2 separate regions of the Homo sapiens genome follow, and region 2 is linked to region 1. The links come from fine-mapping of genetic effects on gene expression. A gene starts in region 1. The other region holds a variant in brackets. All regions are shown on one strand. Distances are from middle to middle.

Region 1 (11,593 bases):
CTCAGGCTGGAAACAATTACAGCTTCTACTGAGGTCTACTGTTTTCCATGTTCGGTACTAAGCATTTGGTTTTTTCTTTTCTTTTTTTTTTTTTTTTGAGAGAGGCTCTCACTCTGTAGCCCATGCTAGAGTGCAGTGGCGCCATCTTGGCTCACTTCAACTTCTGTCTCCTGGGTTCAAGTGATTCTCCCACCTCAGCCTCTGAGTAGCTGGGATTACAGGCATGCACCACCATGCCTGGCTGACTTTCTGTATTTTTTGGTAGACACAGGGTTTCACCATATTGGCCAGGCTGGTCTTAACTGCTGGCCTCAAGAGATCTAGCAGCCTCAGCCTCCCAAAGTGCTGGGATTGCAAGCGTGAGCCACCATGCCTGGCCTGTACTGAGCATTTTACATGTTATCTCATTTAATCATTACAATTCCCCAATAAGGGAGAAGCTATTATTATCATCATTTTATAGATGAGGTAACAGAGATCAAGAAAGCTGCCCAAGGCCTGCGCAGTGGCTCACACACACACACACAAAATACAAAAATAAGCCAGGTGTCATGCTGTGCATTTGTAAGCCCACCTACTTGTGGGACTGAGGCAGAATTGCTTGAGCCCAGGAGGTCAAGGCTGTAGTGAACTGTGTTTGTGCCACTGCACTTCAGCCTGGGTGACAACAAAATAAAAAAGGTCTCAAAAAACAAAGGCCGGGCACAGTGGCTCATGCCTGTAATCCTAGCACTTTGGGAGGCCGAGGCAGGCAGATCACGAGGTCAAGAGATTGAGACCATCCTGGCCAACAGGGTGAAACCCTGTTTCTACTAAAAATACAAAAATTAGCTGGGCATGGTGGCGCGTGCCTGTAGTCCCAGCTACTCGGGAGGCTGAGGCAGAATTGCTTGAACCTGGGAGGTGGACGTTGCAGTGAGCCGAAATCGTGCCACCGCACTCCAGCCTAGTGACACAGCGAGACTCCATCTCAAAAAAAAAAAAACAAAAACAAACAAAGGCCGGACACGGTGGCTCACGCTCGTAATCCCAGCACTTTGGGAGGCCGAGGTGGGTGGCTCACCTGAGGTCAGGAGTTCGAGACCAGCCTGGCCAACATGGCAAAACCCCGTCTCTACTAAAAATACCAAAAAAAAAAAAAAATTAGCTAGGTGTGGTGGCACACACCTGTAATCCCAGCTACTTGGGAGGCTGAGGCAGGAGAACTGCTTGAACCTAGAAGGCAGAGGTTGCAGTGAGCTGAGATCATGGCATTGCACTCCAGCCTGGGTGACAGAGTGATTCCCTGTCTCAACAAAAGAAAAAAATAAAAAAATAAAATAAAATAAAAATTAGCCCAGTGTGATGGTGTGCCAGTAGTCCCAGCTATTCTGAGAGGCTGAGGTGAGAGGATCCCTTGAACCCAGGAGTTCAAGGCTGTAGTGAGCTATGATCGCACCAGTGCATGTCAACCTGGACGACATAATTAAAAACCTGTTTTCAAAAATAAAATAATAAAAAAAAAATGCCACGTGCTGTGGCTCACACCTATACTCCTGGCACTTTGGGAGGCCAAGGCAGGTGGATCGCTTGAGCTCAGTAGTTCAAGACCAGCCTGGGCAACACGGTGAAACCCCATCTCTACAAAAAATACAAAAATTAGTTGAGCACGGTAATGCATGTCTGTGGTCCCAGCTACTCTGGGGGCTGAGGTGGAAGAATCGCTTGAGCCCGGAGGCAGAGGTTGCAATGAGATGAGATCACACTACTGCCCTCCCATCTGAGAGGCAGAGCAAGACCCTGTCCCCCTATCCCCCCGCAAAAAAGTCCTAAAATTGACTATAGTGATGGTTGCAAACATACCAAACCTGCTGATGAGTATACTTTAATGGGTGAATTGCATGGTATGTGAGTTATATCTCAATAAAGCTGTAAAGGAAAAAAATCCCACCCCCAGGTTAGGATAGTGAAGTCGGATTTGGACCAGGCCTCTCCCCACCCCCTCTTGTGAGCTGTATACTGTCTTGCCTCCTAGGTCTCCCAAGGGCCAGTGAGAACTCTGGAAACTACAGATCACCATGATCCTGCAGCAGTCCAAGTAATATTTAAGGAGCACCTACTGTGTACCTTGCAGTGAGAGAGGTGAGTCATCTCTCTACTGGTTGCTTCTTGGACATTCTCCTTTGTCAGGCCCCTTTAGCCTGGTCCTAGACTCAACCACTCAAAATCCAGGTGAATGAGCAAGGCCCACCCTCCACTTGGCACTGTAACTTGGACAAGGATCCTCCCCTTTCTGGGCTTGAGTCCCCTCTTCACCTGTCAAATGAAGGAAGGATTTTCCCTAGATAACCCAACTCAGCTGCTCAGTCCCTGGACAAAGTTCTGTTTCACACGTGCAACAAAGATTTTCTTTCTTTCTTTCTTTCTTTTTTTTTTTTTGAGATGGAGTCTCGCTCTGTAGCCTAGGCTGGAGTGCAGTGGCGCAATCTTGGCTCACTGCAATCTCCATCTCCCAGGTTCAAGCAATTCTCCTGCCTCAGCCTCCCGAACAGCTGGGATTACAGGTGTGTGCCACCACATCTAGCTATTTTTTTTTTTTTAGTAGAGACAGGGTTTTGCCATGTTGGCCAGGCTAGTCTTGAACTCCTGACCTCAGGTGATCTGCCCGCCTCGGCCTCCCAAAGATCTGGGATTACAGGTGTGAGCCACCCCGCCCAGCCAGATTTTCATTTTAAAAGCAAAAGTTCTAGGCCAGGCTGATGCCAGGATCTCAAGGCTCCTCCCTTCTCAGCCTTTTAACAGCTCCCCAGCAGGCCGGCCAACAGACTCTGGCATCTCCCAGGTTTTGTTTCCTCTTCTTGGACCCGAGCCCAGATCTCTGGGCTGGCTAGGCCAGGCTTTCGAGGGAAGGGTCTACCCTTTCAGTCAGGCCACCTGGAGGTGAGACAGGCACTGGTTAGACGTGCCACTCCTCAGAGAGCACCACTGCAGGCTGCTTTCTGAGGTCAGACAGCCATTTCTAGGTGGCCAGGGCAGCTGGGATCTGGGCTCAGTGATGCAGCCCTGGCCGGCTGTGAGAAGTACTCAAGGTTATCTGTACAAATTCCACCCTGGCTGCCAGCCAAGTCTGTCTGCAGGGTTCCCCGGGTGGGCCCTGGGGAATGACCCCTCAGTCTACACAAACTTCTCCACCTCGGTGTTCCGCCACACAGGGCCATCTGTAGTCTGGGAGGCTTCCCACATATGCACCCCACACCGCACCCAGACACACTCACGCCAGGCAATTAACCAACAGCGCTAGGATAACTGGCCCGGACCCATCGCTCAAGCCTTACAAACCCTAGGGTTTTCACCGACGCATACAGCACGCACACGCACAGCTTACAGACCCCAGGCCTAGCACGAACAACTGTGACCCACACAACTAGCCCAACTTCTGTACCCGCCCACCCACGAACTCCAACCGACCCGGCCACCCCCGATCTCTCCGACAGGGAAAACTCCAGGCGTCATCACACTAACAATCAGTTCTACCCTCAGTGACCTGTGGCAGCAACCCCTCGACACAACATCCCGTACACCCTCCTACAGACTCCCACGACGCCACCTGCAGCCACTCCCGCACGAACTTTCTGACAACTCCCCTAGCTGGTCCCGACACTCCCCCGGGCCGCGCACTCACGCCCGCATTCCCAGCAGTTCAGACAAAGCGCGCAACCTCCCCCGCGGCCCAGACCGAGTCGGAGCACATGGCTCCTGGGTCGGCGAGGAATCGTCCGGCGCTCGGGGCGCTTGCACCCCACAGTCCCCACACCCCGGGCCGACTCCGCGCACCAGCTCCCGCGCGGGCCCGCCATCCCGGTGGGACGGGGGCTCTGGAAGAAAGAAAACTCACGTGTCTGTCCCGGGGCAGGAAAAAGTTTGGTTCCCACCCCTACTCCGGCAGTTCGGGGCTGGCCGACTCTTCGGGGCGCGGGGACGGCGGAGCGTGCGCGCTCGGCTTTGTGCTCCGAACTGGGCCCGGAGGGGGAGGGGAGGGGAAGGGAGGGGAGGGGGCTGGGCTCCCACCTCCGCGCCGCCCCCCCCCCCCCAGCCCTGCGCCCAGACTCCATGTTGGCCGCCCCCTGCCCCGGAGACTACGCGCTTCTCCCGCGGGAGGCTTGGATCACCTTCGGCCTGCCCGAGGGTCCCGGCGCGAACAAACTTTCTCCGGGGCGCCGGCCCCACGCGCCCCGCTTCCTTGGCCAGCCTGGGAGTGACAGATGCCTCGGAGACAGACTTTCCTTTGTTCCAAAGGAAAGGGGAACTCGCGCGGGCTCCCCAGGGCCCCCCCGCTCCGGGCCCTTCCCGCGGCCCCCACCCCCAGCTGTCACTCTCGGCCGCCCCCTGTCCGGCTCGGCGGCGGGGGGGCCCTGCTGGCGGTTAGCAACGTGCACTTTTGAAACCAAACAAATCCGTCCCCCCGCGCGCTCACTCAGGTCCGGTGCAGGATCGGCCCTCTCCTGGGGTGGGATCCTATGAAGCTGGGCCCCCCACCAGGGCCCCAAGCGGGCTTCCTCCCGGGGGCTGGAACAGTCCCCCACCGGCCCCCGGAGCGCAGCGCCGTCGGGACTCACAAACACCCCCCGGGGGCCGTCGGGACTCACAAACACCCCCGAGCTCACACACCCCCTACCGCACGCGCCAGGACGACGCCCCCTCCCCGTCCGGCCGAGAAAAAGAAACTTTCCAAGTTGTCCGCGCGCCCCCACCCCCATCTGGCCCTCTGCTGCTCCCTGCACTGACTTTTCCCAGCGGCTTTCGGGTCCACGCGGCCTCCGGCTCGGCGCGGGGCGTCCCGGCGGGGAGCGGGGGGCGCCGGGGGCGCGCGCCGCGTACCTGCCCGGCCTGACACTCGGCCTGACAGCTCGCGGCTGGAAAGCACCTCGCGGCCTGACGTCAGATCCCCTCTCCTCCCCCCGCGCCCTCTGCGCCCTCCCCCACCCGCCCGGAGGGAGAAAACAAACTTTGTGCGGAGCGCGACGAGCTGCGCCCACCCCCCGCGGGGCGGGCCGTCGGCGCCGAGGGGCTTCGCCCCGCCCAGCGCGCCCGGAGGGGGCGGGGCCGCGGGCACCTTCTTCCTGCGCCCACCCCGCCCTCAGGAATGCTGCATGGCCTACCCATAGCGGCGGTGGGAGCCTCCGCCGGGGAGAGCCCGCTCGGGGGCAGGAAGTGGCCCGGCCCTCCTCGTGGAGGGCGTTTCCGGAGCGCCTACTGTGCTCCTTGCCGGGGTGGGGGTCGTTACCGAGTGGGAACTTCTGCAAATCCTGACTTTTGTCACTTCGCGCCCCGCACAAGATGTCCTGCCGGCGGTGCGATTGGTCCCGTTGCTTCGAGGGGAAACTGAGGCCACTTAGTCCGGGCACTTACCCGCAGCTAGTTAAGGACTAGGCTCTGATGGAGACGCTTGTTACGACCTCAATGGCCTGTAGAATCTGGGAGGCCGCCTCCGACCTAAGCCCAAAAAGCACATGATCGGGCTCACAGGGGGCGGCCAGAGGTGAAAACAGCCAACGCTTTACAACGACGCTGTGCGGGGCACTTCGTGTGTGTCATCCCGTCTCATCCTCGGGTGATAGGGTATGTGTTGTCCTATGTAAGTCTCTGGCTTACTCATGAGCCGCAGAGAGGTTCTTGATTTGCTTTTGTCACACAGTCAACCGGTATCATTCAGCCCAGGTCGGTCGATAGTGAAGCCTGATCCCTTACCCCTTGTGCCCGGCCTTAAACGATCAGTCCAGGAGCTCCCGGAGTTCCTGTCTGGTTTCTTTTTCCTCTTCTGCCAGTTACACCCTACTCCAGAAGGTTTTCCTTGGCCTCCCCCACCCCAGTCAGTACATTCTTCCCTGCTCTCTGCTGTGGGTACCACATACTGTGATATTTCTGTTAACCAGCCTCTTAGGGCATCCCCCCACGCCCCCCAGCCCTGTACCCGGACACGGCTAGGTCCAGATATCTAGGGCCCTTGAGCTTGGAAATCGCTTTGAAAACAGCTTTTGGACTTAATTACCCTTTAGCAATGGAGAACTCTAGGAACAAAACTCTTAATTTTTTCCAAACAAGCCTTAAGCCAATCAGAATGCTGATTAAAGATTGTTAAGGTTTCACCTGGACACCCCATAGAAGCCAGACTTCCTGCAAATGTTAAAAACCTCCTCACGGCAGCGGGTGAAATGTCAGTGGCACTGCCTGTTGCTCTCCATTTCACAGACAGGGAAAATAAGGCCCAGAGTGTGGGTCAGAAACAATTTTTTTGGCCGGGGAAGTGGTGCTCCCCCCACGGCCCTGTGAAAGAAAAAGCCACGTCTGGGTTGCCTTAGGTAAGAAATGTAAAACCAATGGGCCTTGGCCTCTAGGAAATGTATGGGACAGGGACCTTCAGAAGAGGGGAGCCCCAGGGGGAAATGGGTGCGACCAGGTGAGCCTGGAGAGGGGGCTCTGGTAGTGGCTGCTGAGCTTGAACTCCGCACTAGGCGTTTTTCTCCTGTATGCGTAAGAGCCACATTCTGCCCTTTCTGGGGAAGCCACTGGGGGCCTGGGCTAGAGGAAGAGACCGCACCGTAAATTGTGCCTGCAGCAGCCCCTTAGACGAGTGTTTCCCAAGTCTGGTGCTAGATGTGGTTGGGAAAATGGAAGCGGGGGAGTGCTGCCTCCTCCTCCACCTGAGAGCTGCATAACAAAGACCTGGAGCCCCTCCTCTCTCCTGGAGGACGGGGTAGTGGTGGAGGGAGGCTGGTAGCCGGTCAGATTTTGCACGTAAGCAAGCTTCACAGATAAAGCCTAAGTGCAATTAGAGTTTGAGAATTACCGTGTCAAGTTTCTGAACTAGTAAGTATCAGAATTTAAAATGTGTAGATTCTCTAAGACAGTAATTCCACTTCTAGGAATCTGTCTTTTGAAGTAGCTGTACAACAAAGATAAATGCTTATAGAAGATTGTTCTTTGCAGAACTGTTCATTCGGGAAAATTGCAAACAACTAAATACCCCTCACCAGGAGCTGGCCCATTATAGCAACTCTGAGACCTCTCTACCGCAGGCTCTTAAAATGGGGTAAGTTGGTGCGCGCTAATGTAGGGGCATGACCAAGGTATATTTATTGACAGCTTACAGTGTCCCAACAAGGAGGGACTTTGGACATAGTTGGTGAGAACTTTAGTGGGAAAACTTTTTCCAAGTGATAAGTTATTGTCATTTTTCTCTCCCCTACTTTCTTTTTTCTTTTTTTTTTTTTTTTTGAGACAGAGTCTCGTTCTGTCGCCCAGGCTGGAGTGCAGTGATGCGATCTCAGCTCACTGCAACCTCCACCTCCCAGCTGCAAGCGATTCTCCTGCCTCAGCCTCCTGAGTAGCTGGGACTAAAGGCGCCCACGCCCACCACCGTGCCCAGCTAATTTTTGTGTTTTTAGTAGAGACTTGAGTTTTGCCATGTTGGCCAGGCTGATCTTGAACTCCTGACCTCAAGTGATCCACCGCCTCAACCTCCCAAAGTGTTAAGATTACAGGTGTGAGCCTAGCTTTCTCCTCCTCTTTCTAAATTAAAAAGAAATATTGTGATAAGAAGCTCCTCCTACCTTTTTTCCCCATGTTTGAAGAAACTGGGTTGCTAAGGGAAGAAAAGACTTGCCTAATAGGAGTTTGGGGTCCTGACCCCTGGAAGGGAGCTGGGGATAGACTAGGAGAGGAAGGAGAGGTGGAAAGGCATCCAAGCCCAGACCAGCCTGGCTGCCCAGGTCATCTAAGTCAGTTCCCTGCCTCCGTACCAGAAAAACCCAAACCGGAGGCTCTTGGATGTGAGGCTCCAGGTTCATCCTGCCAGTTTCTAGTGAACTTGGTGATCACATAGGTTTAAATGAATAAATCCACTTTTGTTAAAAAAAAAAAAAAGTGAGCCGCTTCCTTTTTTTTTTTGAGACAGAGTTTCGCTCTTGTTGCCCAGGCTAGAGTGCAGTGGCGAGATCTCGGCTCACTACAACCTCCGCCTGCCAGGTTCAAGTGATTCTCCTGCCTCAGCCTCCTGAGTATCTGGGATTACAGGCATGCACCACCACGCCCGGCTAATTTTGTATTTTCAGTAGAGACGGGGTTTCGCCATGTTGGCCAGGCTGGTTTTGAACTCCTGACCTCAGGTGATCTACCTGCCTTGGCCTCCCAAAGTACTGAGATTACAGGTGTGAGCCACCACACCTGGCCACCGCTCCCTTTTTGATGGAAGTGGGGAAAGGCACCAGCATTCACTGAGAATCCATATGAGCCAAGTTGCATCTCAGGATAAAGGAGAAGATGGGCTTCTGTGGGGTAGAGGGAAGAGTCCAACAAAGGCCAGGGAGGGTGAAAGTGTTCAGGAAACAACTGGATTGGTTGAGATGGAAGGGCTGTGAAGGCCAGGATGAAGAATTTGGATTTGGCAGTGTGGGCAGTAGAGAGCTCCAGCTGGTTCCTGCGGAGAGCTGGGGAGAGACTGGAGGGAGGATAGTTGGTGACTCAGCTCTGGATAATTGAGGCCGAGCGGATGGAGACCCGCCTCTGAGATCTAGGGAGATTTGTGGCTGTTATGTGAGGTTCTGCATTTTCATCTAATGTTGATAAGTGGAATTCCACATCTTCCTCCTGAAAAGTCTTGCAGTGTCTTGTTGGTCAACCACAATTTGCCTAGCTTTCTCCTAGTTGTTGGGTATTTACTCACGTAACTAATTTCTGAGTGCCCACCTGTGTCTGGCTGTGTGCCTATGGCTGGAAAACCTACAGCCAAGCTTACTCCTGAAGGCTTTGGGCGACAGTGCCTTGCGGTGGGAAGGCTGTGGCCCTGGGACTTGGTTACTAGCCAGGTGATTTAGGAAAATCATCCACACCTTCTGAACCTCCCTTTTCTCATGTTGTGGAAACACAAGGCTTCGGTGAGAGTCAAAGAAAACAGGCACACCCCTTGTTTCATTGTGCCTTGCTTTTTTGCGCTTTGCAGGTACTGCGTTTTTTTCAAATTGAGGGCTTTTGGCAACCCTGTGTCGAGCAAAGTCTACCAGCATTATTTTTCCAAAAGGATGCTCAGTATGTGTCTCTGTGCCACATTTTGGTAATTCTTGAAATATTTCAAAGTTTGTTATTATTATATCTAGTATGGTGATCTGCGATCAATAATCTTTGATGTTACTATTGTAATTGTTTTGGGGCATCATGAATGATGCTTGTGTAAGACGGTAAACTTACTCCATCAATATTGTATGTGTTCTGACCGCTCCACCAACCAGCTGTTTGCAATTAGTAATCGTACAGTGGCCTCTAAGTGTTCAAGTGTAAGGAAGAGTTGCAAATCTCTCACTTCACATCAAGAGCTAGAAATAATTAAGCTCAGTGAGAAAGGCATGTTGAAAGCCAAGATAGGCCTTTTTTTTGTTTTTTTAGTTTTTAGTAGAGACGAGGTCACGCTATGTTGTCCAGGCTGGCCTCCAACTCCTGGGCTCAAGTGATCCTCCTGCCTCAGCCGTCCCAAGTGTTGGGATTAAAGTTGTGAGCCACCATGCCCCGCCTCTGGAGTAGCACTTTTAATTTCACTCAAGAACAATTGGCTGGGCGCGGTGGCTCACACCTGTAATCCCAGCTACTGGGGAGGCTGAGGCGGGAGAATTGCTTGAATCTGGGAGGCAGAGGTTGCAGTGAACTGAGATCACGCCACTGCACTCCAGCCTGGGCGACAGAGCAAGACTCTGTCTCAAAACAAACAAACAAAAACTATCTGGCTAGGTCTGGTGGCTCATGCCTGTAATCCCAACACTTCGGGAGGCCGAGGCAGGGGAAGGTCTCTTGAACCCAGGAGTTTGAGGCCAGCCTGAGCAACATAGCAAGACCCCCTCTCAACAAAAAATAATCAGCTGGGCATGGTGGCGAATGCCTGTAGTCCCAGCTACTTGGGAGGCTGAGGTGGAGGAAGGCTTGAGCCCAGGAGGTTGAGGCTGTGGTGAGGTATAATTGTGCCACTGTACTCCAGCCTGCGTGAAAGAGTGAGACCCTGTCTCAAAAATTGGCCAGGCGCAGTGGCTCATGCCTGTAACCTGAGCACTTTGGGAGGCCAAGGCAGGTGGGATCACTTGAGGTCAGGAGTTCGAGACCACCCTGGCCAACATGGTGAAAGCCCATCTGTACTAAAAAGAAAAAAAAAATACAAAAATAAATAAAGAAAAAGGTGCTATTTCAGTGAACACAGTAATAAGAAAGGGAACAGCCTTATTGCTGATATGGAGAAAATTTGAGTGGTCTAGATAGATGATCAGACCAGCGACAACGTTCCCTTAAACCAAAGCCTAATCCAGAGCATAAGCCCTAACTGTCTTCAATTCTCTGAAGGCTGAGAGAGCTGAGGAAGCTGCTGAAGAAAAGTTGGAAGCTATCAGGCTTCAGTAGGCTTTTTTTTTTCTTTTTTTTTTTTTTTTTGAGACGGAGTCTTGCTCTGTCGCCCAGGCTGGAGTATAGAGGCATGATCTTGACTCACCACAACCTCTGCCTCCCGGTTTAGGCGATTCTCCTGCCTCAGCCTCCCGAGTAGCTGGGATTATAGGCGCAGGCTACCACGCCCAGCTAATTTTTCGTATTTTTAGTAGAGATGGGGTTTCACCATGTTAGCCAGGCTGGTCTCGAACTCCTGACCTCAAGTGATCTGCCCACCTCGGCCTCCCGAAGTGTTGGGATTACAGGCGTGAGCCACTGCACCCGGCCAATTTCTGTATTTTTAGTAGAGATGGCGTTCCACCATGTTGCCCAGCCTGGTTTCAAATTCCTGACCTCAGGTGATCCGCCTGCCTTGGCCTCCCAAAATGTTGGGATTACAGGTGTGAGCCACTGTGCCTGGCCTGGAATTTCTTTGATGAGAGCTATGCCTTGACAGTCTCATTTTTCCATTGTACTAGAAGGTCTGGGGCCCTGGGAGCTAGTGCGGCATGAAGGCCTGAGTGGGCTCTGTGCCTTGCTGACAGTGTTCCCAAGCTGAGTGGAGGAAGACTAAGGGTCTGGATATCCTCAACACTGAGTACATGAATTTCTGTGTAACCCTTCTGTTGTTGCTGTCTTCTCCTCTCCTGTGCCTGGTGTTCATCTGTCCAGGACCTTCTGTATTCTTTGGATAATAAATTTCTGATCTCTTGTCGGGTCTAGGTTGCAGCCTTCATAGGATCTAGGAGTCCACTGCTTTTTTTTCTTTTTTCTTTTTCTGAGACAGAGTCTCGCTGTGGTGCAATCTCTGCTCACTGCAACATCCGCCTCTCAGGTTCCCGTGATTCTCATGTCTCAGCCTCCCAAGTAGCTGAGATTACAGGCGCCCGCCACCACACCTAGCTAATTTTTGCATTTTTAGTAGAGACATGGTTTCGCTGTGTTGCCCAAGCTGGTCTTGAACTCCTGAGCTCAAGTGATCCACCTGCCTCGGCCTCCCAAAGTGTTGGGATTAAAGAATAGAGATAAGGGAGGCACAGAGGGGCTAAGTAACACCTGAGGTTATAAAACTGGTCATTGGAGGAGGTAGGATTTTATTCCTGAAAGGTTAATGGTAATATTATCGTCTCCATTTCTGACTCTAGTAATTTCAAGT
Region 2 (11,593 bases), 120 kb after region 1:
AACCGGTTCCAGCTGGAACGCGACGCATGCTCTGTGCGGGAGGTGGACCGAGGCGGGAGTTCCCACCAGTTCACCCCAGCGACACCTCGCTGTAAGGGGGGAACCGAGGCTCCGAGGAAGCTGCCCGAGGTGGCCCTCTCACCCCTGCATAGTCAGATTGGCCCTCTGGTCCTGGCTGCTCTGCGCCCTAGGTGTATCTAGCTGTCCTCGCCACTGCATCCTCCCTTTGCTTTGCTAACCCAGAGTCCTAGAGATTGGGTTCCAATCCCGGCTCCGCCTCTGGAGGCCTGTGTGATCTTGAACAACATCCGCATTCAACTTCCCTGAGCCTTCCATTCCTCCCCCGTAAAATAAAACAACAAGCACACCTACGATCTCATGGAGGGCAAAGTGACCAGCTCGAGCCGGGTTGGCAGTAGGTGGTGCCTTCACGCCTCCTCGCCTTCCCAGTTCCTGGCTTCTACCCCGCGAGTCCCCTCTCCTCACTGAATCCAGGTCCTGTCGCTGCCTTGTGGGCCTCATCTCTCCAGGCCGCACCTGTGGTAGGTCTGCCAGACGCAGACCCAACTCTTGTTCATGACCTGCCTTGCTGGGTGACCTAGGCAAGTCCTTTCCTTTCTCGCATCTGTTTTCCAAAAAATGGAGAAAAGAATTTTTGACATATCAAAATATTTTGAGCACTGGCGAAGATGATAGTGTTTCCAATACCACTGTCATGGTTTTTGCATTAAGGTGTAAAAATAATAAACGGAATTGAGGGTTAGCCAACCGTTTTGAATCCAGGCACTGTGCTAAGCACTTTGAAGGTCATCCTATCTCAGTCACTTATGCTACGCCTGTACTATTCACTTTAAGTTGGTTATTTTTATTTTTTGTAGCGACAAGGTCTCTGTTGCTCAGGCTGGTCTTGAACTCCTGGGCTCAAGCGATCCTCCCACCTCGGCCTCCCAAAGTGTTGAGATTACAGGCGTGAGCCAAGGTTGATTTACTTAGGAAAAAAACAAGGTACATTTGTTATGGGCCCTGACAACCCAAGGCAGCACACACAGCATAAGATGAAATATCATTATTCCACTTCCACCCTCCCAAATTTAATAACACACTCCCTGTGTGACCTTGAACAAGTCCCTTTCCCTCTCTGGGACTCACCAGCCCTATCTGTTTCCTGGAGAGAAACTGGACCAAGGCAAGATTTTTCAAACTGTGGACCGTGATTGACACCCTGAAGAGAGATCACTGGGGGCACCAACTGAAAAGCAGATTCTGGGCCGAGTGTGGTGGCTCACGCCTGTAATCCCAGCACTTTGGGAGGCCAAGGCGGGAGGATCACCTGAGGTCAGGAGTTCAAGACCAGCCTGACCAATATGGAGAAATCCCGTCTCTACTAAAAATACAAAATTAGCCGGGCATGGAGGCACATGTCTGTAATCTCAGCTACTTGAGAGGCTGAGGCAGGTGAATCGCTTGAACCTGGGAAGCGGAGGTTGCGGTGAGCCAAGATTGCGCCATTGCACTCCAGCCTGGGCAACAAGAGCGAAACTCCGTTTCAAAAAAAATTAATTAATTAATTAAAAAAAGACCAGCCTGGGCAACATAGGGAGACCCTGCCTCCACAAAAATTAAAAAATTAGCTGGGTGTGGTGGCATGTGCCTGTGGCTCCTCAGCTACTCAGGAAGCTGAGATGGGAGGATTGCTTGGGCCCAGGAGGTCAAAGCTGTAGTGAGCTGTGATCCTGCCACGGCACTCCAATTTGGGTGACAGAGTGAGACACTGTCTCCAAAATAAAAAAATAACAAAAAAGAAAAGCAGATTCCTGGGACAGAACTCAGGCAGTGTCAAACAGTGTTTGTATTTTACCAAATTTGAGACCCTTGGGCTAGGAGATTTTAACAGTCCCTTCTGATGGTGATGCTTTAGGGTCCCAGAAGATATTTATGGAACATCTACTGTACTCCAGTACTGGGTCCTTCCCCTAAGAGCTCCCCAGTCTGGCTGGAATCCCTACAAGGCAGAGTTGGCTGGACCACAGCCTGAGATGGGGCACAGACAGGACTCACATGCTCCCCCTCCCTAATCCCCAGCCTGGACCCCAAGGCTCCCCATCCGGGGGGTGAAGATGCTCCTCTCCCAACTTCCCAGATAGTCACTGTCCTGTCTCAGGTGCCAGAACTGGCAGTTAGAGGAGTGAGGGCTGTCCCCACGCGACCTGGCTGTGTAACCATTCCTTCTCATCACCCCTTAGCTGTTCTCCTTCACTCTCACCCACATCCAATCCACCAAAGAATCCTGTTGACTCCACTTTCAGAGCCCTTCCAGGATCCAGTGAGTTGTCACCACCTCCCTCACTGCCACCCTGCCTAAGCCACCATCATCACCCTGGTATTCCCATATCACCCACTTCTCGCCCCTCAAACGTGGCTCCATGCAGCCCCCTGAGTAGTCTTTTTTTCTTTTTCTTTTCTTTTTTTTATTTTGAGACGGAGTCTCATTCTGTTGCCAGGCTGGAGTGCAGTGGCGCAATCTCGGCTCACTGCAACCTCTGCCTCCCAGGCTCAAGCGATTCTCATGCCTCAGCCTCCCGAGTAGCTGGGATTACAGATCTGTGCCATCACACCTGGCTTTGTATTTTTAGTAGAGAGGGGTTTTGCCAGGCACGGTGGTTCATGCCTGTAATCCCAGCACTTTGGGAGGCTGAGGCGGGTGGATCACCTGAGGTCAGGAGTTCAAGACCAGCCTGACCAACATGGTGAAACCCCTCGCCATGGCACTCCAAGCCTGGGCAACAGAAGCAAGACTTCATCTCAAAAAAAAAAAAAAAAAAAAAAAAGATATGGGGTTTCACCACGTTGGCCAGGCTGGTCTCAAACTCCCGACCTCAGGTGATCTGCCTGCCTCGGCCTACCAAAGTGCTGGGATTACAGGCGTGAGCCACCGCACCCGGTCTGAGTGTTTCTTTTAAGACACACACCAGGTCATGTCACTCTTGTGCTCCAGTGCCCCAGTGGTTCCCCCTTGTACTCAGAGCCAAAAGACAAAGTTGTTTCCACAGTCGGTGGCCAGACCCAACCCTCCCCTCCCTGTCCTCGAACCTCACCTCTTACCATGGCTCTCTCCTCAGTGCTCTGCCCCCCACCAGCCTGTCAGGCACCTCCTGCCTCAGGGCCTTTGTACCACTCACCCCCCGCCTGGAGCGCTTCCCAGCACTGCTTATTCCCACACTTCCTTCAAGTCTTCACTCAATCCGGGTGTGGTGGCTCATGCCTGTAATCCCAGCACTTTGGGAGGTGGGGTGGATAGCTTGAGGTCAGGAGTTCGAGACCAGCCTGGCCAACATGGTGAAATCCCCTTTACTAAAAATACAAAAATTAGCTGGGTGTGCCTGTAATCTCAGCACTTTGGGAGGCCAAGGTGTGCGGATCATGAGGTCAGGAGATCAGGACCATCCTGGCTACCACGGTGAAACCCCATCTCTACTAAAAATACAGAAAATTGGCCGGGCGTGGTGGCTCATGCCTGTAATCCCAGCATTTTGGGAGGCCAAGGCAGGCGGATTACCTGAGGTCAGGAGTTCAAGACCAGCCTGGCCAACATAGTGAAACCCCGTCTCTACTAAAAATACAAAAATTAGCCAGGTGTGGTGGCAGGTGCCTATAATCCCAGCTACTCAGGAGGCTGAAGCAGGAGAATCGCTTGAACCAGAACCAGGGAGGCGGACATTGCAGCCATTGCACTCCAGCCTGGGGGACAAGAGTGAGACTTTGTCTCAAAAAAAAAAAAAAAAAAAAATTAGCCGGGCGTGGTGGCGAGCGCCTGTAGTCCCAGCTACTCAGGAGGCTGAGGCAGGAGAATGACATGAACCCGGGAAGCGGAGGTTGCAGTGAGCCAAGATCTCGCTACTGCACGCCAGCCTGGGTAACAGAGTGAGACTCCGTCTTAAAAAAAAAAAAGTCTTCACTCAAAATCTCCCTCTCAATGAGCTGTACCCTAGCCACCCTGTTTATACCTCGGCACCCCTCCCTGCACTCTGCCACCACTCCCAGGACCCCTTATGCTGTGCCAACTACCAACAAACCACACACTTATTTATGTTTATTGTTTTGTCTGCCCTTCCCCTTCCCAGTAGAATACAATCTCCATGAAGGCAAGGATTTCCATTTTGCTCACTGATGGTACCTACAACACAGCCTGGCCCAGAGCACTTGATCAATAAACATCTATCAGTGAAAGATGCCTGATTGCAAGGCTCAGGTGCTTAACCACCATGCCGTAGGGCCTCCAAGGTTCTATTTAAACACCTTCATCTCTCTTCCTTTGGGGTGACTTCTCTACCCCCTGAGGGGATACAGAATGCCCCTGTCTTGTCTCAAGAGTCTCAATCCTGGGATTGGAGGCCTGCCCACCAGTCCTTCAGTCCTGGTCACTATTTCCCCCAGAAGGCTGAGTGGATCTGCTAAAAACAGGACATGGAAGAGTGAGGATCCATATACTCAGCACACAGTAGGCACTCAATTAATCAGGCATGTCGTAGTCCAAGGGTTGGTGGACCCCAGACAGGAAGCCTGCCTTCTGCCCAGTGTCCTCTGTGGAGAGGTGCCTGTTTCAGCAGTAGGGAATTGTGGTTCCTCATTATTCATTCTGGGAAGGCCTCCTGGGTCCTCCCATTATTCTCTGACCCTATGGCCCCTGTCCTGACCTCACTGTCACTTACCTAGACCACTGCACCAACCTGTGAGTGGCCTCTCAGCCTCTAATCCATCCTGCCCATGTTGCTAGAGGACTTCCCCTGCAACTCCTGTAACATACCTTCATTACCCATGCTTGTACTGCTTTACCAGGACTGGGTGGCTCCCACGCACAGGGGGCAATGGAGAACCCAGGGCTTC[G/A]AAGTCAGGCACACCCAGGTAGGAAACTGCTCCCTGACCTACTAGCTGGCTGACTTTGACCTTGATAGATAATCATCTTCCCTAGGCTGATGTTTCTTTGTGAAATATCTGTAAATGTGTGTGCATGTCTGTGTGTGCGCACGTGCATGTTGGGATAAGTGGGTTAGATCAGGAATTGCAGATGTATGTAACTCTTCTGGCTACGGTAGACATCGCGAATCGATGGTGGCACCTTTCTTTGCTTAACCAAATCTCAGAACTGAGCTCCAGGGATCAGAGATGACACATGGTTGAAGTCCATTTGCAATCTCCGGACATGATGGTCTTTGAGTTTCCTCTTAGCCCTGACACTGTGGAGACTAGAGGCGTTGGGCTGACAAGAGCCTGCGGTGGAGTGAGGGGACAGGTGGGCCCAGGGTAGGGTTGGGGGACAGGGTTGACTGGAGGGTTGACTGTGTACTGCAATTTTATCAACCTCCCTTCCTGTATACAGAGTGTGTGGTGCCGGGGGGAGGTTAGGGGTAGGAGGGCAGTCAGAGAAGAAGCTGGGGGATGGAAGATGGGACAAAGAGGGGCAGGCATAGCAGCTGATGACTGGATTGTCACAGATGGGAGGTACCTGTGGGTCCCCAAACCAAGGCCTCACAACACAGATAGAGACTTTGAGGCCCAGGGAAGGGCAGGTGCCCACTCAGAGTGACACAGAACTCAGGGTCCCTGAGCAAGGAGCAAGGGTGGTTCCCAGGCCTGGAGCCCATCCCAGGTCAGCCTAGAGCCACAAGCACTGTCAGGGAGTGAGCCCAAGTGTGTGTGCCTGTGTGCTTGCACACACTCAGGTGCAGAGAATGCAGCTGGCAGGAGTGGGGGTACACCCTGCAGCCCACCACCTTGCCTGCCCAGGCCACTGGCTGTCATCACAGCCTCCCTGTGATTCAGAGGGAGTGGGAGAGACACAGAAAGGGAGGACGGGGAGGAGGGCCAGAAACTGAGAGGGAAGGAAGGCAGAGAGGGTGGGAGGGAGAAGCAGAGAACTGAGGGAGACAGACAGAAGGCAAAGATGGTGGGGGGAGAAAGAGGGAGAGGAAGGGAGGGGAAGCTGGAAGAAAGAGAGGGAGATGGCAGAGTAAGAGGAGGGAGGGAGGAGGAGGGAGGCTGTTCTCCTTTCTTCTTTTTCTCAGAGGCATAGAGAGAAGAGAGGCAGGAGGGGGCAGACTGGGGAGTGATGGCACCCCCAAGCCCCCTCCTAGATAGGTCCTTTGGCTGGGGAGGGGCACGCATCCATAGCGGCTGCTTCTCCCACCATCCCAGCTAGAGCTGACCCCGCCTGCCAGTCACCTGCCAGAGCTATTTCTGGAATGTGGAATCTGGGTCAGACAGGGGGAGGGAGAACAGGGACAGCAGTAGTGGCACTGGCAGTGGAGAATTGGCCAGGTCCACGTGGGTGGGCGGGCAGGCAGGCAGCTCCTCACCCTGCCCACGCCCTGCTTGAGAGGGGCTCTCACTGCCTCAATAACTGCCGCTCCCCTACATCAACCCACCGGCCTGCACAGGACCTGAGTGCACAGATGCCTCTGTGAGAAGGACAGAGCTTTCATGCCCTTCAGCAACGTGGGGGCTCAGAACAGCCCTGGGGGTGGAGAAAGGACCCGATTGCTCACTCCTTGGAGACAGATGCTGAGGAGTAAGGGGGCAGCCTTCTGAGCAGGGGTGACCCAGTAGGGAGACAGTGGCTGGATGTACAGTGGTGAGGATGTGCCTGTGTGTGCTGGTGTTTGTCTGTGGAGGGAGTGATTTTGGGCAGGCTCGCCATATATGGTTGTACAAGTTTTATACTGATCAAGGATGCTACATATCGGGGGGAGCCATTCACCACATAGACATAATTTAATTATATAATTATTATGACAAATTTCTGGCAAATGGAAGTAAAGGACCTTATTCTAACAAAAAGTGTGACATGACAATTTTTCAACAGATGGCTGTTAAGTGTCTTAAGGAGTGCCCTTTCTTTCTATCTTTTTTTTTTTTTTGAGACAGAGTCTCGCTCTGTCGCCCAGGCTGGAGTGTAATAGTGCGATCTTGGCTCACTGCAACCTCTGCCTCCCAGGTTCAAGTGACTCTCCTGCCTCAGCCTCCCGAGTAGCTAGGATTACAGGCGCCCAGCTAATTTTTGTATTTTTAGTAGAGACGGGGTTTTGCCATGTTGGCCATTCTGGTCTCAAACTCCTGACCTCAGGTGATCCACCCACCTCGGCCTCCCAAAATGCTGGGATTACAGGCGTGAGCCACTGTGCCCGGACTCTTTTTTCTTTTTCTTTTCTTTCTTTCTTTCTTTTTTTTTTTTTTTTTTTTTTGGAGACAGAGTCTCACTCTTTTCGCCCAGTCTGGAGTGCAATGGCACGATCCCGGCTCACTGCAACCTCCGCCTCCTGGGTTCAAGCGATTCTTCTGCCTCAGCCTCCAGAGTAGCTGGGATTATAGGTGCCCGCTACCATGCCCAGCTAATTTTTGTATTTTTAGCAGAGACAGGGTTTCACCATGTTGGCCAGGCTGGTCTCGAACTCCTGACCTCAGGTGATCCACCCACCTCAGCTTCCCAAAGTGTTGGGATTACAGGTGTGACCCACCGTGCCCAGCCTCTTTTTTCTTTTTTTTAAAGACAGAGTCTCATTCTGTTACCCAGGCTGGAGTACAGTGGCATGATCATGGCTCACTGCAGCACGACCTCCCAGGCTTAAGCAAATCCCACCTCAGCCTCCCAAGTAGCTGTGACCACCATGCACAGCTAATTTTTTTTATTTTGTAGAGACAGGTTCTCACTATGTTGCCCAGGCTGATCTTGAACTCCTGGGCTCAAGTGATCCTCCCACCTTGGTCTCCCAAAGCATTGGGATTATAGGTATGAGCCACTGCACCCAGCCTCTGTTTCTTTTTAGACAGGGTTTTGCTCTGTCACACAGGCTGAAGTGCAGTGGCTAACTAAAAAAAAATTTTTTGTAGAGATGGAGTCTCACTATGTTGCTGAGGCTGGTCTTGAACTTCTGGCCTCAAGAGATCCTCCCTACGGTGCTGGGATTATAGCACCGTGCTCAGCACTGTACCCGGCCTGAGCTTGCTCCTTTTGGCTGCATTTGTTAAGGACTTACAAGACAAAGGGGCCAGGCGTGGTGACTCACGCCTGTAATCCCAGCACTTTGGGAGGCCAGGGCAGGCATATCACTTGAGGTCAGGAGTTTGAGACCAGCCTGGCCAACATGGTGAAACCCCGTCTCTACTAAAAATACAAAAATTAGCCAGGCATGGTGGCGCATGCCTGCAGTCCCAGATACTTGGGAGGCTGAGGCAGGAGAATGGCTTGAACCTGGGAGGCAGAGGTTGCAGTGAGCCGAGATCATGCCATTGCACTCCAGCCTGAGTGATAGAGGGAGACTCTGTCTCAAAAAAAAAAAAAAAAAAAAAAAAGACTTACACAAGAAAAAGGCCAAGCGCAGTGGCTCACGCCTGTAATCCCAACACTTTGGGAGGCCGAGGCGGGCAGATCACTTGAGGTCAGACGTTCAAGACCAGCGTAGCGAACATGATGAAACCCCACCTTTACTAAAAATTTGAAAGTTAGCTGGGTGTGGTGGCATATGCCTGTAATCCCATCTACCTGGGAGGCTAAGGCAGGAGAATGGCTTGAACTCAGGAAGTGGAGATTGCAGTGAGTTGAGATCCTGCACTTCAGCCTGGACAACAGAGCAAGACTCTGTCTAAAAAAAAAAAAAAAAAGATTTACAAGAAAAGGAGGAACTCAAAAGAAATAGCTAGGCCAAGTGCCGTGGCTCACACCTGTAATCCCAGTACTTTAGAAGGCCAAGGTGGGAGGATCACTTGAGCCCAGGAGTTCAAAACCAGCCTGGTAGAACATAAGGAGACCCCATCTCTACAAGAAATTTAAAAATTAGCCAGGCATGGTACTGCATGACTCTGGTCTCAGCTACTCGGGAGGCTGAGGCAGGAGGATCGCTTGAGCCTGGGAGGTTGAGGCTATGGTGAGCTATGACCATGCCACTGCACCCATGCCTGGGTGACACATGGAGATCCTGTCTAAAAAAGTAAAAAATAGCCGATCTTCAAGGAGCGTTTAGAGGAAAGGGAAGGAGACCAGAACTTGTTTAGTTGGAAAATAAATTTGTCAACTCCAGCCCCTCCAGAGAGTAAACCATTCTCAAATTAAGATACAGCCTCGTTAGGCATGGTGGCTCATGCCTGTAATTCCAGCACTTTGGGAGGCCAAGGCAGGCAGATCACCTGAGGTCAGGAGTTTGAGACCAACCTGACCTACAGGGAGAAACCCTGTCTCTACTAAAAATACAAAACTAGCTGGGCATGGTGGTGCATACCTGTAATCCCAGCTACTTGGGAGGCTGAGGCAGGAGAATCACTTGAATCCAGGAGGCGGAGGTTGAGATGAACTGAGATCACGCCATTGCACTCCAGCCTGGGCAACAAGAGCGAAACTCAAAAAAAAAAAAAAAAATACAGCCTCAGGGCAAAGATGAAACCAAGGTCATGGCCAGTTAAGATGCCGTATGTGGACAGGATCAAATCAAAGTGTGGTTATAATATCTCTTATTAACACTCTAAAAATAGTAGAGCCAGGCGTGGTGGCTCACACCTGTAATCCCAGCACTTTGTGAGGCCGAGGCGGGTGGATCACTTGAGGTCAGGAGTTCGACACTAGCCTGGCCAACATGGTGAAACCTTGTCTCTACTAAAAATACAAAAATTAGCCAGGCATGGTGGCACACGCCTGTATTCCCAGCTACTTGGGAGGCTGAGGCATGAGAATCGCTTGAACCTGGGAGGTAGATGTTGCAGTGAGCTGAGATCGCGCCACTGCACTCCAGCCTGGGCGACAGAGAGCGAGACTCTGTCTCAATCAATCAATCAATCAAGATACCAGGTAGCAGATGCTACTATCTGGTCAAAAGGGCCTACAGAAAGCTTAAGGGCATGGTCCCACAGAAGCCCAAAGTAGGCATCAAGTCAAGAGAGAGGCATGACTCAAAAACAATTATGGGTATGGCTTTTGGCACTCGAAGTTACAGGGAATCAAATACATAGAAAACTCATCAAATGTTTGAGGTAGGTGCATGGGTAAAATTGACCAGCTTAGGCTAAAGGGAGTAAGACCGTTCAAGATGCAAAAGACATCTAGCTCCCTAACTTTCTTTAGGAAGGAAGCAAGCTAAGAAAGGTGTTCCGTTCCCCAAGGCTATATTCTCCAAGTTCTCTTTAAAAGTGGCCAAAAATGCTGATGGAGAAGGAAGGGCTTTCAGAGAGCAGAACCAAGAGCTGTGGAGAACAGTAGACTAGAAGATCAACCCCAGGGAGAACTTGTACCTAATCAACAAATCTCAACGCATTTGCCCAACAGTTGCTCAGAAGGACTTCAGAATTGCCATGGATCAATAAGTCTCTGCATCTCTACTTTCCCCTTTTCTGAACAGGAGTATTAACTGCAGTTCTCCTGTCCCTGTTTCACCAGTGTATGCTGTGTGGTTGGGGAGGGTTAGACTGTAGGGTAGATAAGTAGTTTCTTTAAAAAATTAAAAGTCAATTGTTCGACAGAAGCCACATCCAGACCTGACATAGATCATAAGAGTCTGATCCAATCTCATGATTGGATGAGACTTTTGGGGGTCTTGGGAATAAAAGTTTTCTACCTGGGAAGGGCATGAGTAAATACAGCCAAGACAGTGGATCATGGAACATAGAATTGTTGACCCTGATTCTTTTTTTTTTGAGACGGAGTCTCACTTTTGTTGCCCAGGCTGGAGTGCAATAGTGTGATGTTGGCTCACTGCAACCTCCACCTCCCGGGCTTAAGCGATTCTCCTGCCTCAGCCTCCTGAGTAGCTGGAATTACAGGTGGGCACCACCACGCCTGGCTAATTTTTGTATTTTTAGTAGAGACAGGGTTTCGCCATGTTGGCCAGGCTGGTCTCAAACTCCTGGCCTCAAGTGATCCACCTGCCTCGGCCTCCCAAAGTGCTGGGATTACAGGCATGAGCCACTGCGCCCACCCAGACCCTGATTCTTTACCTCTCCCTGTGGCCACACCCTTTGCCATATGAATATAGTTTCCTACACAAAGGTGAGAAGATACTTCTCCATCCCTTGTCTATGAGCTCAGTCATATGACTTGTGTTGCCAATAGGATGTTAGCAGGTATGACATGAGCAGAGGCCTTGAAATGTGCTTGTTTGGTTAGTTAGGCTTGCTCTTCTGTCTTCTGCCATCACCATAAGGAGAACATGCCCTGGCTAGACCACTGATCCCAGGAGGACTCTTTGGTCCCAGGAGGAGGATGAAAGACATGTGGAGCAGAACTGTCCCAACTGACAAACTTGGGAGCAAGAAATAAATGTGAATTGTTGTATTACACTGATTTTGTGGTTGTTTGTTATGCAGCATAATTGTAGCAAGAGCTGACCAATACAGGGACCCAGGCAGTATTGGGACATGTAGCCCATCCCCTATCTTTAGTCCATTCATGAGTGACTGGGGTTGGAAAAACTGGTGAGGGATGGTTTATTTGAAGAGAATTGCTAGGGGTGCTGTCTATCCCTCCAGGCCCACTTCATGCTTAGAGAACTTCGCATGGGTGTGAGGATGTGGGGGATGTTATCCTTCACCCACGGCCCCTTTGGAACTGTAGCAG

Which allele goes with the higher level. Alleles are on the strand shown, and positions count from the first base shown. SD is a standard deviation of normalised expression in the study named.
As copies of G replace A in region 2, the expression in nucleus accumbens of the gene that starts at base 5,235 in region 1 goes up (small effect, 0.34 SD a copy in GTEx).

Evidence for each region.
Region 2: its variant is fine-mapped to the expression of DLGAP4-AS1 in nucleus accumbens (GTEx, PIP 0.99). The same link has a PIP of 0.9 or more in skin.

The regions. Positions count from the first base shown.
Region 1 is chr20:36,566,917-36,578,509 of GRCh38, reverse strand. It overlaps DLGAP4-AS1 (DLGAP4 antisense RNA 1), which reads left to right and starts at 5,235. Exons shown (of 5, transcript NR_109939.1): 1 at 5,235-5,598; 2 at 6,967-7,069. TGIF2 (TGFB induced factor homeobox 2) reads right to left here and starts at 4,913. Exons shown (of 3, transcript NM_021809.7): 1 at 4,765-4,913. It overlaps TGIF2-RAB5IF (TGIF2-RAB5IF readthrough), which reads right to left and starts at 3,995. Exons shown (of 5, transcript NM_001199535.2): 1 at 3,875-3,995. RefSeq lists silencers at 4,557-4,726, 4,797-4,886, 4,917-5,236 and enhancers at 5,737-5,796, 6,415-6,967.
Region 2 is chr20:36,449,580-36,461,172 of GRCh38, reverse strand. The region is part of intron 7 of DLGAP4 (DLG associated protein 4); the gene reads right to left. Among named protein-coding and RNA genes, the nearest start is that of MYL9, 86 kb to the left of the region's middle. RefSeq lists enhancers at 1-153, 6,037-6,837 and a silencer at 1-246. The variant G/A (reference allele first, on the strand shown) is at 4,885.